2 separate regions of the Homo sapiens genome follow, and region 1 is linked to region 2. A link means that fine-mapping ties the variant in region 2 to the expression of a gene that starts in the linked region. Tissue or cell type: tibial nerve. Region 2 holds a variant in brackets; the other region holds the start of a gene. All regions are shown on one strand. Distances are between the middles of the regions.

Region 1 (8,191 bases), 140 kb after region 2:
GTGTGGGGGCAGTTTTCAAAATGCAGGGATGAGATGTGTTAGTGCCAGCTAGCCCTCACCAAACAAAGAAAGTTGAGATGACTGTGTTCACTTGAAGTAAATTAGAAAACAGAAATTCAGCAAACCCTCCCCAAACTGCCTAAAATAATTCAGTGTTGAGAGAGTATAAAAAATTGTCATTAGTCTAGATAACAATAGATGTGGAATCCCTATTCTAAATAAACTAGTTATGGGGCCAGGCACGGTGGCTCAGGCCTGTAATCCCAGCACTTTGGGAGACTGGGGTGAGCAAATCACTTGAGGTCAGGAGTTTGAGACCAGCCTGGCCAACGTGGTGAAACCCCGTCTCTACTAAAAATACAAAAATTAGCCAAGTGTGGTGGTATGCGCCTGTAATCCTGGCTACTCGGGAGGCTGAGGCAGGAGAACTGCTAGAACCCAGGAGTCGGGGATTGCAGTGAGCCAAGATGGCGCCACTGCACTCCAGCCTGGACAACAAAAGCCAGACTCCATCTCAAATAAATAAATAAATAAACAAACTAACTAAGTAGTTATGGATGAAAAGTTTTAGTGGGAAGGCCAGAATTTTCTGAACTTTCTCCCAACTCAGTAAGTACTGCCTGTCCCTTGCTTTGTATTACTCACTGCAACTAAAGAATCTTTTGCACCAGCACATCACCTTGTTTGACACTAAATCACATGGCATAAGTATGAAGACTCAAATGAGAATTTTCATTATAAATCTCTCCACTATGAAAGTGTGAAAACACATTTCAAAATCTGCCACATACTGTCACCTGGGGAGGGGAAGCCAAAACAAGTACTTTTACCCCTTGCATCATTACCTTGTGTCTGACAACAGTTCTAAGCATAACGCTTTTTAAGTGCTTGGTAATTTAATATTTAAATTGCTTCCTGAATAGTCCATGTTGAATATATATGTGTATTAGGCTTAGTATCTCTGAAATTTTCATCCCGTAGCTGTCATCTTTCATGTAGGTCAAACTACAGATTTTTACTAACAGGTGAATCCTTCTAAAACAATTACAGTATGAAATTTAGAGCTGATAAATTGGATTTTACAATAAATTTTTAATAATGGTAACACTGAAAAGGTTCATGACTTTTTTCATTTTCATTGCATTTTATGTGGTCATTTCTTTCTTTTTATACATTTTCTCAAATTCTGAAAAGTTATCTGCTATTTCAAGGAATCACAAGTATGAGAAACACTTTAGTTATATCTAACCCATTAGAAGAACTATATAGAAGTCAGCTTTTCAATTCAAATTCCCTTTGAAGTTACTTCACAAATAAAAACAAAATAACAATAAGAAAACAGAATAAACAGAAATAGAAACAGAAATTTATTAACATCGATTTTCTTTCATTTATTGAAAAGACCCTCTATTTCTACCTTTGGTGTATCATTTCATTGTAGTGGCCACTGCTATTGGTTATTTACCTAGCATCCATTTCCCTTTACCCCTTTGTAATGGAACCAGCTTTGTTCAGATATACACCCCTCCTGCTATTCCACATTGAAAATTCTGGGGATGAGCCATAATTCATTCAAACCAAGTTTGCCCTTGACTAGTTCAAGAATTAAATTCGGTTAGGGCAAGGTATTCTCCTGGAGACAGGTATGCTAGCACAAACAGGCGTGCTAACTGTTCATCCTCTTCCCCGCCCCACAGTAAGGAAACTGAACATCAGTACTTTTTCCATGGCCAGCCGAATAAAGCCCAAACGCAGCATTCAAGATTCTCTACTATCTTGCCCCCAACTACTTTTTGGCTCTTTCTCCCTTGCACACATCTCCTGCTCTAGCAGCTTGGCCTTTCAAGAGTATACCCCTGCCTGTTCCACTTTACATCCTTCCTTCAGGCTGTTCCTTTGGTTAAGAAAGCCCATCCACTCCCATCTGAGCCAATTCATACCCTATTCATTCAATGTCCAGATAAAAAGTAAACTTTTCCAAGAAGTCTTACTTGATACTTACATTAACAAATAGAACTCATCATACATTCCCTGTACCATAAATTATTTGTGCATGCTTACAGCCTGTTTTAAAAATGCAAACTCCTTACGGGCTGCAGACACTCACACGCGTCTTTGTATTCCACCACCACCTTTCCCCACCAGATACTCAAAAGCACAGAGTGATGGCTCTGTAAATATCTGTTGAACAATGAACACTGTTTTTGAAAGTGGAAAATGCCTCTACATAACAGGTTATTGCCAAAACTGAGAAGTCCTTGGAAGTCTTTAAAAACATTTTTCTATGGCTTGGGAATAGTTTTGCTGAAGAAAAAAGAACAAATCAGATGACCTTGCAAGGCTGAGTCTGCGAATTGTATCAACTCTTTTAAAGTACTGCCTAATAATTCAAAAACAAACTATACACAAATGCTATTTACAAAAAGAGGAGCATTTATTATAATATACAACTTTAATAATAGAATGTTCTACCAAAAATTTGAGCTGTTCTTGTAATATTGGTAATATTTAGAGCTGTGTCCAAGGATTGCATAAAAAGCCGATTTACTCTCTTATTTCACACTTAAAAGTAGTAGGACAGAGAGAAAAACTGGCCATCTCAAACTAGTAACAGTACAAGATACTTGGAAGCACAAGTTCATAACATGGACATATTGATGTTATTGTGTGCACATCATCACTAAAAATATACCTACTGAACTCTAGAAAAGTTAATTTTGATGATAACAGCTTCATTAGTTTCTACGGAGAAGACATACAAAAAGTTTTCGTATTCTCTTCTCCCCTATTCAATGAATCTGCACAAGTTAAGTTGGCTAGTATTAGGTTACTTCAAAATCAGTTCGAATAAGGCCATGAAATGACTGGAAACATGCTGGTGTCTCCAGAAAAAAAACAGGGTTAACCACAAAGTTCCAAAATCACTGAACCCGCTTTTTAAATAACATCCTTCAGAAAAAAAATCTCAGTAAATCTCAGCAATAAATGGGACAGAAAACTGGATTCCACAGGAGAATGCACACACAAAAACAAACAGCACTGCATAGGATGAAAATCAGGATCTAAATTAATATGATGGCTATTCACCGAAAATGTAAGAAAGATTAAGCAGAGATTAAAAGCTAAATTTATAAACAGATGTTTTAAAAACCGTTAACAAGAAATTTAAAGACATTTATTTATTTTGTTCTAATATTGTTATATTCTATGTATTGTTGAGAGCCAACTTAAGTCCTTTGGAGATGAAGCTAGAGTGTAAATAAATTCTTGTTTTCGATTGTAGTATAGCACAGTATACAATTAGTTTTAAAATAAAGATCATTTTCGGCCAAAACGTGTATAGGCTTCTAAAAGGTTACGTTAAAGCTATAAAGTTTTCCAAATGATTTTAAAAGCACTTCTAGTTTTCCTAGGGCCGCCTAGTAAAGACAACTGGTTCTAAATACAGTTTCTAACTGGACCAGTGAGTAAGGGAGTTCGTTATCTAAAAAGGATCCTGCATTCCGCAGAGCGCAGCGAGGTGAGAGTCAGGGCCCGGCCTGGGACCGGAGGTAGCCGGACGAGTTTAGTTACCTCTCTGACAAGGAACACCTGGGCTGCGCGGGCGGCAGAAGCAGCCGCTGCAGGTGCGCGCGAGCCTCGGCCGCAGCAACGAACGCCGCCCCTGAGAAAGTTGGACTCCCGACCCTCGGCAAAGCAAGGAGGCTCTTTGCCGTCCCCAAACAGCTTCGCCCCGGGCCCGCCGACCCGGCCTGGCCCCACCGGGAAGAAAGGGCTGGAGCTACTCACCGTGCAGAGAGAGGAGCAGCAAAGGCGCCAGAGGGGAACGCTGAGAAGTCATCCCGGGGCCGCAGGGAGCGCGCCTGCCTCCTACCCGGCTCCCGGTCGCAACAGGAGAGGAGCGGGCGTGAGTCTCCGCGCTCTTGGGGCAGCCTGGTCCTCCCACACCCAGCGCCGGGCCGCTGTTCCCCGCGCAGAGCTGGGACTGTCAGACCCACAGACGAGCCAAGTGCAGCTGCAGCGCCGCCCGGCTCCGCGGACGCTGAGCTGTGACCAGAGGCGTTCCGGGCTCGCCAGCCGTGCCACCCAGCCCTGCCCCAGGACTAGCCGACCCCTCGCGCAGTCCGGGGAGCCACTCCCCCCAACTCACGCCCCGCTACTCCAGCCGCAGCTCGGCTCCTCGCCGCGCCGCCCACTCGCCCCGCTTGGTCTCCAGGGCAACCGCGGCTCCAGCGCGACGCCTGGCGGCCCACCCGCGGAGCAGAGCGCGGCGCGCAGCTGGCGCGGCCCCCGCCACCTGTGCACCGCGCCGCCCGCTCCCCCGCACGCCTCCACCAGCTCCGGGAACCGAGGGGTGGGCGCCCTCCTCGCCGGAGTTAGGGCCCCTCCCTTGGTCTAAACCCCTCCGCAAACAGGTGGTGTCGGCCTGATGCATCCTGGAGAGCTCTAGCAATGACTTTTCCACAGCCTTCCTCTGAGCCTGCAAGAGTCTTTCCTGTTGCAGTTTTCGGATAATTTATATTTGGCTTTTTCACTTTCAGTCCTCTCTTATAAAACCTAAATAATCTGAAAGAACCTGACTCTGGCAGAATTAGGAATTCCTAATTTTACAGTGTTTTGGTTTTGCGCTGTTTCCTGGATGCCTTTTCACCTTTCTTCCTTGAAAAGTGGATAGAGGCTGGACCATGCCCCTAACTCCCCATTCCTATCAGAGAGACTGCCATCTTCTCTTGCCCCTTTTGTAAACCTTATGTCAACTTCTAATATTTTAAGTTTTCCAGCTTAAACGTTAGTGCTTTCTTAAACTGACCTTAAGTATACATGTTAACTAGTGGGGTATGTACATTTATTGTAATCGTTGTTTAGTTGGGTTTTTTGTTTTTGCTTCTTGTTTGTTTGGGTTGGGTGGGGAGAAAGACTTTCCTAGCATCTGAAATTGTTTTACTTAAATATCTACCTACATCTTTTCTTGTAAAACCTATCTTTATTCTCTTATACTGGGCTCTGCTCTTTATTGTACAGCTCATAGTCACTTCCTGCTTCAGCCTCCAAACTGAGCCTTCTAAATTTGAGGACATACCTGCCCAGGGGATGCCAACCCATTTTGGTCAGTTTCTACAGCAGCATAAATTAGGGTTCTCGGAGCCATTCAGAAATTGAGCCCTCATCTGGCAAATACAATCCTCCCAGGGAAACTCAGAAACAAAAATAATATGCACAGAAGAAAAATATGTAAAATATTTTTTAAACATACATTTGGACAAGGATTGGAAGATATATGTAAAATTAAAATATCAAGATGGTGGAGTTATGGATGTACTTCTTTTTGAAAATGTGGATATTATATTTTTAAGGTTAAAAAAATGAAACATGTTAAGAAATGTTAATAACTTTTAACAAGAATATCCTGAAAGGATAAATTTTGATTATGAAGTAGAGATGCCTCAACTTTGCTCACTACTTCCAACTTGCTAGAATTCCCTACCAGATCTCTAATGGCAAGAAATAAATGATATGACAGTAGAGTTTTTCATATTAATAACAAATTTAAATTTCCAACTATGATATCACGAGGCTCATTCTCATTCTTTTAAACTCCAGGGTAAGGACTAGAGTTTCTTTTTTCCATCCAATTCAATCCCTCACCCTCTCTTGTACATATTCCTGCAGTCTAATCCAGTCCTAAGCAGGGTATAAGAGTAAGCAATATAAGAAGAAAAACAAGGAAGCGGTCAAGTGATAGGAGCTACTGAGAGCAACTCTTCATGTCACCATAATCCCAGATATAAATATAGAGGCAGAATATTTATCCTTTAAATAAATATCCTTTAAATAACCTAATAATCTGAGCTTAAAGCTCTGATAAAGCAAGTTATCTGATATATTTATCGCATCAATTTAACAACTATTTACCAAGTACCTACACTTTGTAAGGCACCAGGTTTAAGGTTAAACCAAAAAAAAAAAAATGACCCCTGACCCCAAATAAGTTCCAATTGCATATGGGCTATATCTGTGCTATCATAAATAAGCAGATAGAGTTCTGCCTCTTTGTCACCTAAGGATACTTCTGCCTTGCCAGGCAAGAGCTACTGAGTCATTAAGAGGACAATGCTCACAGTTCAGTAAAGGAGCCCTTTCAATAGAAAAAAAAAAGTGTGGCTTCTGAAGGGAGAGTGAGGATGATCAGATTTCAGGAGGCAATCCAGCTGCTGAGAAGCATGAGGGCAGATGGTAGATGGTGGACCAGAAGAAAGCAGATCAGGAGTACTAGAAGCTCCAAGTGCTGTACACAGAGGCTTCCAAGGACACTCTCCCAGGAAACAAAAAGTGTGGTTTTTAAAAAAATTCATAGAGATAATACCATTGACATATACTTTGAGTAATTTTTTATTAGTAATGATGAGTTTCACCAGCTCTTTTATCCTAATCTGCTTTACGACCACAGAAGGATTTCTTTAAATCCCTTAAGTATTCTGAGTACTAAAGACAGAGACAATATGTTATATTTGTGTAACACTTTACAAATTTCAAAGTGCTTTCACACCTATTATCTGATTTAATCTTCACAGCAAACCCAGGGGGGATGGGTAAGGCATGTATGATGACCCTGTCTTCACACAGGAGGATACTGTGTCTTAAAGCTATCTGAGGGTAACACTGTACTTGCCTCCTAAAGATTTATCCCACCTCTGCCCCACCATGATCACTACCACACCCAGACACCACCTGAGAAGCTATAAAATTTGGATGAGATTGGCCCCACCCTCATCTCTGAGAGAGTTATAGTTGGTCTACCTTACCAAGAAAGAAGTGGAGAGGGGAATGATCAGGATGAGGAATCCTGGTAGAAGACTCTGCTATATGGCACCTTTGACTCAAAAACATTGATGACGTGAAAATAAGTCAACTGCTAAAGTTCACATTTTAATCCTAGGCAGGCTCTCCTCAACCCATCAAAATGCTGGACCACTTCTTTCCACAATCAGTTAATCTGCATTCAAGAATGGAAAATTAACTTTATTATTAGCTTAGGAGGAACATAATTAAGAAAGAAAAATGATGTAGGGAATTATAAGGATTTCCAATGCCAAGTATAAATTATTTTTGAATTAGCTATTTTAAGTTTTTAATACCTCAGATCCCTCTTCATTCATATATATAAATTAAAGGTTAATTGCATTTAAGTTTTGGTCTGTATTTGTCTATGGAGTGTTTTATAAGAACATTATTCTTAAAGTTAGGAAAAACCTGTTTGATCCTTGCTTGAGCCAGTAACTCATTCTGTATATATTTTAACCCAGCTGCTTAGAGCCAGCATATAGTCTAGAGCACAGTTTGGTCCTTTTAGAAGTAAAATTTTAGAGGAATTTTTCTCCCTCCCCCTCCCCCTTTGCAAAATGTCAAGAAAAGCTCTAAAATGACAATAAAGGAATGGGAAACAAAATAGTGGCATCATTACAGTAAGAAAGAAAGTAAACCAACAAGTGTTTATTGTATGTTGACATAAATAGACCACTTAATATTTTAAAACAACACTCTCAAATTTTGGATTAACTCATAACGTAGATATATTGATATCTTGTTGTCTTTCTTACATCTGTTTCTTCCCACTCCTCTGTCAACCATTCCTAGATAGGATTTACAAGGAGCTAAACAGCAATATCCATCCTCCTCCCCATAGCCCAATCCCTATCACTGTTGTGAATATTGTCAAAGTTTCCCATCTTCATCCATTTTGGGAAAAGTTAGCTCTTTTTCTTGAAGCCCTAATTTATTTTTGGGTAAAGTTACTCTCTGAGCAGGGAACATTGTAACGAAATGCTACTGAATTAATTCTAATAGCAAATTTAAAATAATACCACTAGGTTTTTTTAGGACTTGAAAAAGGCAATAGCATAAGTAGCATTTTGTATGTCACCTGAAAAATTTTTGTATTTTCATTTTTATAAGGAATATAATTTTCAAATATTCTGCCAAGTTTCTTTACCAGTTTTCATTAAAGGTAATATGCTTCAGATTAATTCACTTGATTTTATATTGGGGTATAGGAAGTTACCTCAGTATTTTCCAATTCTGAGGTGTTTTCCATAGAAGTTTAATTTAAAGTGCAGTTCAGACTTTCACTTCCAGCAACAAAACAGGTTAGAGACCTTGATTTATTAAAAATGTGAGATTATATATTTTTATA
Region 2 (8,191 bases):
CCAGTATTCATAAATGCCATATTCAAATATTAAAGTCATTCACAGTCATCCAAATCAGAATCTTCAATCCACAAATGGATTTCCTGCCCCGACTCTCACCCCTCAGTCAAGTTAATAGTTTCCAAGTTTTGTCCATCAGAAATGGCTGAGTTTTGAGCAGAATATACTGTGATTTTTTACGTGTGTTTTTCAATGGCCCTATACTTGGATTGTGTCCCATCCCATCATCAAATTGCTCCAGAAATATCACCAAACCCAGGCCATCAGAGGATTTCAACCACTGCGTTGGGGCTAGAGGCTAGAGAGCACTCTAGAGTCTCATGGAGTATACTGGGCAGTTTGTCATCTGATTTCTCCATTGGAAAGCAAGACTGGGTTCCCAGGCACATGCATTTCTTGCCTGAATTATTGAAATAATCACCCAGCTAGCTTATGAAACTTAGTTTCTCCTCCACTTTCTCATTCTGTAATATAGGGCTGACGTCATCACTTCACTTTCTGCTTTCAAACCTTATGGTGCTTCAGTTCCCAAGAATAAAGGACAAAAACTTAGCAGTGCATGTAAAACCCCTGATCTCCGGCCCTAAACTATTTGACTATATTACTGCTCTCTTTCACCAACTATCCATGAACAACACTACCTGCTATAATCAAAGTTAATAAACACTTTCAACAACCCCATCTCAGTTCCTTGATTATTCTGATTTCTCTGCCCTGGAATGTGCATTGCTCCCTCCTGTAATGCCTGAGAATGTTCACTAGTCAGAGCCCAATACTAAAAAATTCACCTGAGCACATATGATGTTGCTGGTAGTATAACTTGCTATAATCTTTCTAGAAAATAATTTGGCAATAGATATCAGGAGACTAAAAGCTCATATTCTCTGGCCCAAATATTTTCCCTATCTATCCTTTCTAAGGAAACAAACTTAAGAAATTATCCCCTGGGAAATCCATTACAGTGTTATTTATAATAGTAAAAAATACAATGACCCAAATTTCCTCCTGTTGAAGAATGTTTAAAACAGCAACTTTCAAACTTTTTTGACCATGATCCTCAATAAGAAATAAAAGGTGTATTATAATCCAATTACACTATTCATTTATATCCACACAGTAAACATACATTTATGTGTGTGTGTCTGTGTGGAGAGATCTGAAGTAAAATCTTCATGAGACAATACATATTGTTAACTACATATAATGCATACAATTTCATTTTTTAAAATGTTGATTACAACCCACTAAACCTACCAATTAATATGTTGTGAGCCACTGTTTGGAAAACAGTAGATTTAAAATATGATCGTAGTATAATGGAATAATACTTAGTTACATAAATATTTCTTAAAATAATAATCGCCCAAGAATATAATAGTTATAGAAAGCAAGGTACTGGTTAGGCAAGTGGCTCACGCCTGTAATCTCAGCACTTTGGGAGGCAGAGGTGGGTGCATCACGAGGTCAGGAGTTCAAGACCAGCCTGGCCAGCATGGTGAAACCCAGTCTCTACTAAAAATACAAAAAATTAGCTAAGCATAGTGGCAGGTGCCTGTAATCCCAGCTACTGGGGAGGCCGAGGCAAGAGAATCGCTTGAACCCCGGAGGCAGAGGCTGCAGTGAGCCAAGATCGCACCACTGCACTCCAGCCCGGGTGACAGAGTGAGACTCCATCTCAAAAACAAAAACAAAAACAACCAGCGAGGTACCAACTGTCTACACAGCGTGATTTTAATATTTTTTGAAGTATATATGCATTGGGATAGTTCTCTGGGGCCATTGCTAAGACAGAGGGTACTCCACTGTGGTCAACAATTTGCCTAATATTTCTATGTCGCAGTTTCTTGCAGGGAGCATAACAGAAGAGCATAGCATTCAGACAGTCCTGGAGTCCTGTGTGCTCTTGGATTAACTGTAAAATGTATTCATTTTACTTGGCTGGGCACAGTGGCTCATGCCTGTAAACCCAGCACTTTGGGAGGCCGGGGCAGGCAGATCACTTAAGTCCAGGAATTTGAGACCATCCTGGGCAACATGGCAAAACCCCACCTCTACAAAAAATACAAAAATTAGCCGGGCACAGTGGCACACGCCTGTAGTCCCAGCTACTTGGGGAGCTGAAGTGGGAGGATCGCTTGAGCCTCGGAGATCAAGGCTGCAGTAAGCCAAGAACGCACCACTGCACTCCAGCCTGGGTGACAAAGTGAGACCCTGTCTCATTTAAAGAAAAATAAAAGTATTCATTTTATTCAATAAACACCATTGGCCATAAATATTATGTGCTCAGAACTAAAAAATGTGAAGGTGTTCCAAATCTATCACATGAAGGCAGACATTTAAACAAATAAATGCACTAGTGTTTCAGATGATGGATGGATGATGTACAGTGGGGGCCAAAAACGAGAAAGAGAGTGCTCATTTCTATTGGGAGATAATGCCTGACCTGAGACTAAATAAACATAGGTTTCCACCAGGAAGTCAAGGAAGAAACGAAGAGCAATCCAGGTAGAAAGAAGGAGCACAGAGAAGGGTGAATCTTCGTGGTAAATTCAGGGCTTAGCAGGCATACTGCCATGATTGGAGCACAAGATAAGGTGGGGATGGGGCTGAAAAGTGAAATCTGGAGAATGGAGTGCAGGCAGAATCACGGAGGGCCTTGTGTGCAATGCCAAGGACTCTGGACACTCTAAGCCACTGATTCTTACAATACACATAGCCTGTGCAGCTTTAAGGACGGCAGGTGCCTAGCTCACCCCCAGTAACACTAATTAGTTGGCCCTTGGTGAGATTTGCCATGTTTTATTTTTTTACTCAACCTCTTTGTGTAGGCAGTGAGGGGCCACTTAAGGAATGCAATAAGCAGAGGTGTAGTATCACAGTTTCAATCAGCTACAGTGTGGAGAATGGATTGGAGGTATACAAGATTGAAAGCAAGAGATCCAACTAAAGAGACCATCATGGTGGCCCAAGTGAATAAGGGCAAAAACACAGGCTAGAAAAAATGCAGGTGGAATACAGAGGAGAGGAAGGATATTGAAATGTCAAGTACACAGTCCAGACTTACTATAGAGGCAGGGATGGTGTGAAAGCGTGGGTTGGATCATGGGGTTGAAACTCCCATGATCTCCTGCATCCCTCCTAAATGCACAGGTAAAATAAAAACAGATATTTTCTGTGCTAAAAGAATCACAGGAAAAATCCCCCGCCTTCCCTTCCTCCATCCTCCACACTTTCCAATAACTTGTTGCCTCTAAGTAGTTCTTCTTTCTGAAGTCATAATTAGTGTCTGGGGGCAAAGAAAGGAGACATAGAGGTGGAAAGGAATTAAGAATGACTGCCTTTCCAACACTTCAGGGAAAGTAATACTTACCTCAAGGAGTGAGAAAAAATAAGATAATGGATGGATTGTGTCTGGCACATGGTAGGCTCTCAAAAAATCACTTCCTTTTCCTGGAAGGGAGTGACTGAAGCCCAAGCCCTCCCCTTGCCTGAGCAAAAATTTCTACCCAGCTCTGTTTTCCTCTCAAACATATTTATAAGTTTTCTAGTGCAAGACTAAAATGACAAGATTTCACTTTTTCTCAGACAAGATTTTTTTTTTTTAATCCTATGGAATAAAGTCAGAACTGGATGAAGGATTTTCCCCTTTCTGCTGTGTTCCATCAATTGAGAAGAAACTCTCTTTCCTGATAATCTTCTCTGAAATGTAATATTTTTTTTCATCCTTATACTCAATGGGGGAAAAAAAGTACTAGCAGCAACACATCTGAAGATTCCTTGTACCCATCTAAAAGTTAACTCCTCTTTAGTGCTTTGCAAGTAAGCAAAAACACTACACTTCAAAAAAAAAAGCAAGCAAGCAAGCTGCAGAGGACTCTATGAAAGCTGTTCTTTTTACAGAAGTGTGGTCACAAATCAATGCATTGTTAATGAAGAGTTTCCTCTATAAAACTCTAGAGTTA[T/C]GTGGAGACTCAAGACTTGCTTATGACTTCTCGCTGTGGGGAGGTGTGGGCTGAGTTTACACAATGGGGGCTTTCAGCCCCATTTACTTCAGAAGAGCTTTGCCCAAGAAGCCTGATGAGAGAATTGCCCTTTTCCCCTCCTTTCCAAAATGTCAGCCCGGATTGTTTCAAGAACTAGGGAGAGCAGTGTACTGATCTAAATCATTGAAATATTCCTTGAAAATTTAAAATTACCAGAAATGCACCGTTTCTTTTTCTTCTGAAAGCACAAACATTAGAAAATACTATATAGCAATTAGGAGCCAGGTTGCCTATATTTGAATCCAGGTCCCAGGTCTTCCCATATAAACTTAGGCTAGTTACTTATCACTTGTACCTCGGTGTTATTATCTGCAAAATGGGATAGTGTTTGTACCTATCTCATACAGTGGTTGTGAGGATTAAAATGATTTAATAGATGTAAAATGCTTAGAGCAGCACCTGACACATAGTTTCCTGTTACTCGATACTATTCAGAAGAGGAGAGCTCCAAGCTGGATCCACCCATGAAGCTGCTGGAAACAAGTCTGCTTAATAACAGATATTGTAAATACTGGACCACAGGCCACACAGACCCACAGGAATGTATAATTAAGCAGGATTTAACTTAAAAAAATTCATTGCCGACATATACAATCCAAGAGAGATACAAATAAGCATTTCTGGCTTCTCTTGAAGATTCAAGAGACCTGGCCATCCTGGACCCAAGTCCTACTGACCACTCTTGGTGGGAGCTGAGTAGCTGCTAACCTCTTTAGGCAGGGCATAAATCTCCAAGTCACCATGCTCCCCATCTGGCCCAGTTCTCTCATTTACTTTACCTTCACAGGCATTTCAGGTTGTGATCTCTATACTAAAGGGATTGGGGCTCAGAAATCACAGCCTCGCCTCTACTTACATCATAATACAGGATCAGCACTGTGAAGTTGGAGGGGTGAACACACCTTGATCTCTGGATGACTGAGAGAGGGGAGGTGAAGAAAAGAGTTACAACCTGGTTGTATGTGAGACTCAGGTCTTCTCTAATCTCTCCAGTAGAACTTCCGTTTTTCTCCTTATAAAATTCAAATACATGACTTAAAAAGTAAACCAGTAACAGCTACAATTTATCTATACCATTTTATATACATTATCTAATGGTATCCTCAGACCTATGATGTAGCAATTATAATCTCCATGTTATATCCCCAGAGAGGCTAAACAGCTTGCCTCAAGTCAGTAGGAAGTGACGGAGCTGGGACTCAAGTGCAGGCCCAGGGTAGCAAAAGGCATCCTTCTACGTAGAATTTCCTCCAAATTCACCATGTCTTCAAAGACCTCTGTGTTCCCCTCAAAACTTCTCGCCTACGGGAATTTCCTCAAACGCATCCTCCCCTAGCAATAGCTCTGACTGTAGAGCTGAAGGTGGTAAGGGAACTAGTGTTTTACACAAATTGCAAATGCCCTAGGAAAGTGATGAGAAAGAATTAAACGGCTGTGAGACCCCCCCGAGTGTGCAGAAATTAAGAGGAGAAAAACTCAAAAAGCTTGACCGCATGGAAAAAATTATTCTAATAGTCTTATAAGTCAGAGATGGTAATTTTATTAAATAATTTTTTTAATGGGCAAAGAATGACTAGAAAGAATAAAGAACTCTTGTCTATGCCAGGCCAAATTTGAGGCAGTACCAAGACCTTTACTATTTATTGGCTATCTTAATGGAAGGACAGTATATGGCAACAGATGAGCAATGCCCTTGGCTCTACATCTTACAAGCTTTATGACCTTGAGCAAGGTACTTAACCCATGAAAGCCTGTTCCTTCATCTGTAAAATTAGCATAATACAGTACTAAAATTGAAAGTGTTGAGGATTCTATGGGATATACACAAAGTGTCCAGTATGCTGTCTAGCATACAGTAGGTGCTCTATAAATGCTGATGTTCTCCCACCCTCTTAATTATCCTCAGCGATTTGAAATTGATAGTAATCAGAAGATAAGTGTGTTATTTTGGAACAAAATGTGAGGAAAAGGGAAATAGGAGAAAGTATTTGGGTAGACAATAATTACCGAGGCTTCTCCTTTCTCTTAAACAAAAAAATGTCCCAAATTGCTATTTTATATGCAGTAGCACTCAAATAGTACTTCTGGCAAAAAGAGTTGAAATACTGAGTAGGTGTAAATGACATAGCTATTGCCTAGAAATTTAAAGCTTCTGAACTACTACGAATAATGGCAAATATCAAGTGTTTACTATCACCAGACACCATGATATTCATCTTATGTGCATTATTTCATTTAGTACTCACAATCTCAAAGATAACTATTATATTGTTTCTATTTTGTAGATGAAACTGAGCCTTAGAGAATTTTGTAGTTTGTCCAATGTAATGGACAACTGAAGCTCATTCATATATATATATATACACACACACATACATATATATATATATATAGGCATACAATCTTGTCCAAGCCTCAAATGCAAAACTGCTGCAAATCTGATAAACTGAGGGAGCAACTGATGGATGATAGAGAAATATGGCTTCAATGTAAGTTATAATAAGCTAAATTATCTATTCTAATCTGACCTCCTAAAATTAATCAGGTATCAACTGACCTCACTGTGTTAAATACATAGTAGGCACTATACTTATTGCTTTGTTTAATAAACTTGTCTCTATCATTAATGTCTTATGATTAAGTCAGAATTTTGTGCCTTGCCTTTACCTAAAATAGGGAAATAATACCTTCTTCACAAGGAAGCTGTGAGGAAAAGCTATAAATAGCTGTATACACATAGAATTTACAAGTCAACTTTTCTCTGAATTGCATTTATTGTCTCAGCATTTTTTCTGTGAAGTTGAATATCATCTTACTTAACACAAGTGATTTGTCCAAAAGAGGGCTATTTGAAGGCAAAACGACGAGGATCCCAGATCTTTCTTTTTAGACATTGGTTCAGTCAGACAGAAATATCTACTGAGAAAAGCAACTGACAGATTACTGAATAGTCTGGGAAAAATGTTTAACCACCTCAGTTTCTGAACTTGTAAAATATGAGTGATGATAGCGTCCATGTAGAAGTGTGATAAAATTAAATAAATTAGTACTTGAAATGCATTTTTTCATGTACTGCCATGTAATAAGCATAACAGATATTTTCACACAAAACCCTTCATAATTACTTAAGATTCTTCCAAACCACTGCATTAAGAATGTTATCTCCACAGCTTTCCCAAACAATACTGCATCTCTAATATAACATCAAATGCCCCCAAGGAACTGGCACAATCATTTGCCACATGAGTAAATGACTCTGATGTGGCCTTGCTTTGGGAATATTCTAATATTTGACTGCTACTTTTAACACTGAAGTTAAGAGACCAAATCATATATTTTCAGTTTCATGAATTTAGCGCATCCTTCAAGCACTTTCTCTGAATACAGCAACGTGTTAAGTGTTGTGACCACAACCAAGATATAGAAGTAGTAGTCCCATATGCTTGAACTTGCATAAACATCCACTCATATACTTACACGACTTGCAACTACTTGCTCACAGATGTGGATCCCTCCTGCAATATGGACTTTTTGAGAATATGGCTGCAGTTACTTCTCTGTTTTTACCTTCAACACCCAGAACAATGTTTAGCACATAATTAAGGATCAAAAATGATTGTGGAATAACTCATTTTATAGTCCAGCAGGAGGGATCAATCATGTACACAAATACAGAAATATAATACAAACTGTGGAAATTCCATTACAGGTAGTAAACGCTATACCTCTTTAGAGAGGACAGTCACTTCTCATTAGACTGAAAAAGAGAATTTATAGAGGACAATGTATTTGAATTGGACTTGTGGTACCAGAAGATTTGGGTGGAGATTATAGCTGGAAGCTGTAGCGGGGGGAAAAATGGAAACAAAAAGAAAAAAATTTACTTCAAGGGAAGGTGAACAGGTCTGGAGCAAAGTTTGCATGTAGAGGAGGCGCAGACGTTAAGAATGAAAGAGGCAGTGAACTATTTGTGGAAGAAACTGAGTAAGTCAAGGCAAGGAGTAACAATTTTATTTAATACACAATTGAGAATCCTTAAAGCTTTCAAATAGTAGGGTACTATGAGATTTGTTTAACTGATGATTATTTCAAAAAGTAATGATTCAGGACTTCCGGTTCCAGCCAAGATGGGATAGGCCCATTACAAA

The links. PIP is the estimated chance that this variant, and not a neighbour inherited with it, causes the effect.
Region 1: IGSF11 starts here. The variant in region 2 is fine-mapped to the expression of IGSF11 in tibial nerve (GTEx, PIP above 0.99).

The regions. Positions count from the first base shown.
Region 1 is chr3:119,030,742-119,038,932 of GRCh38, forward strand. IGSF11 (immunoglobulin superfamily member 11) reads right to left here and starts at 4,105. Exons shown (of 7, transcript NM_001015887.3): 1 at 3,790-4,105. The coding sequence starts at 3,841. RefSeq lists a silencer at 4,026-4,385.
Region 2 is chr3:118,886,429-118,894,619 of GRCh38, forward strand. No RefSeq gene overlaps it. Among named protein-coding and RNA genes, the nearest start is that of IGSF11-AS1, 53 kb to the right of the region's middle. The variant T/C (reference allele first, on the strand shown) is at 3,963.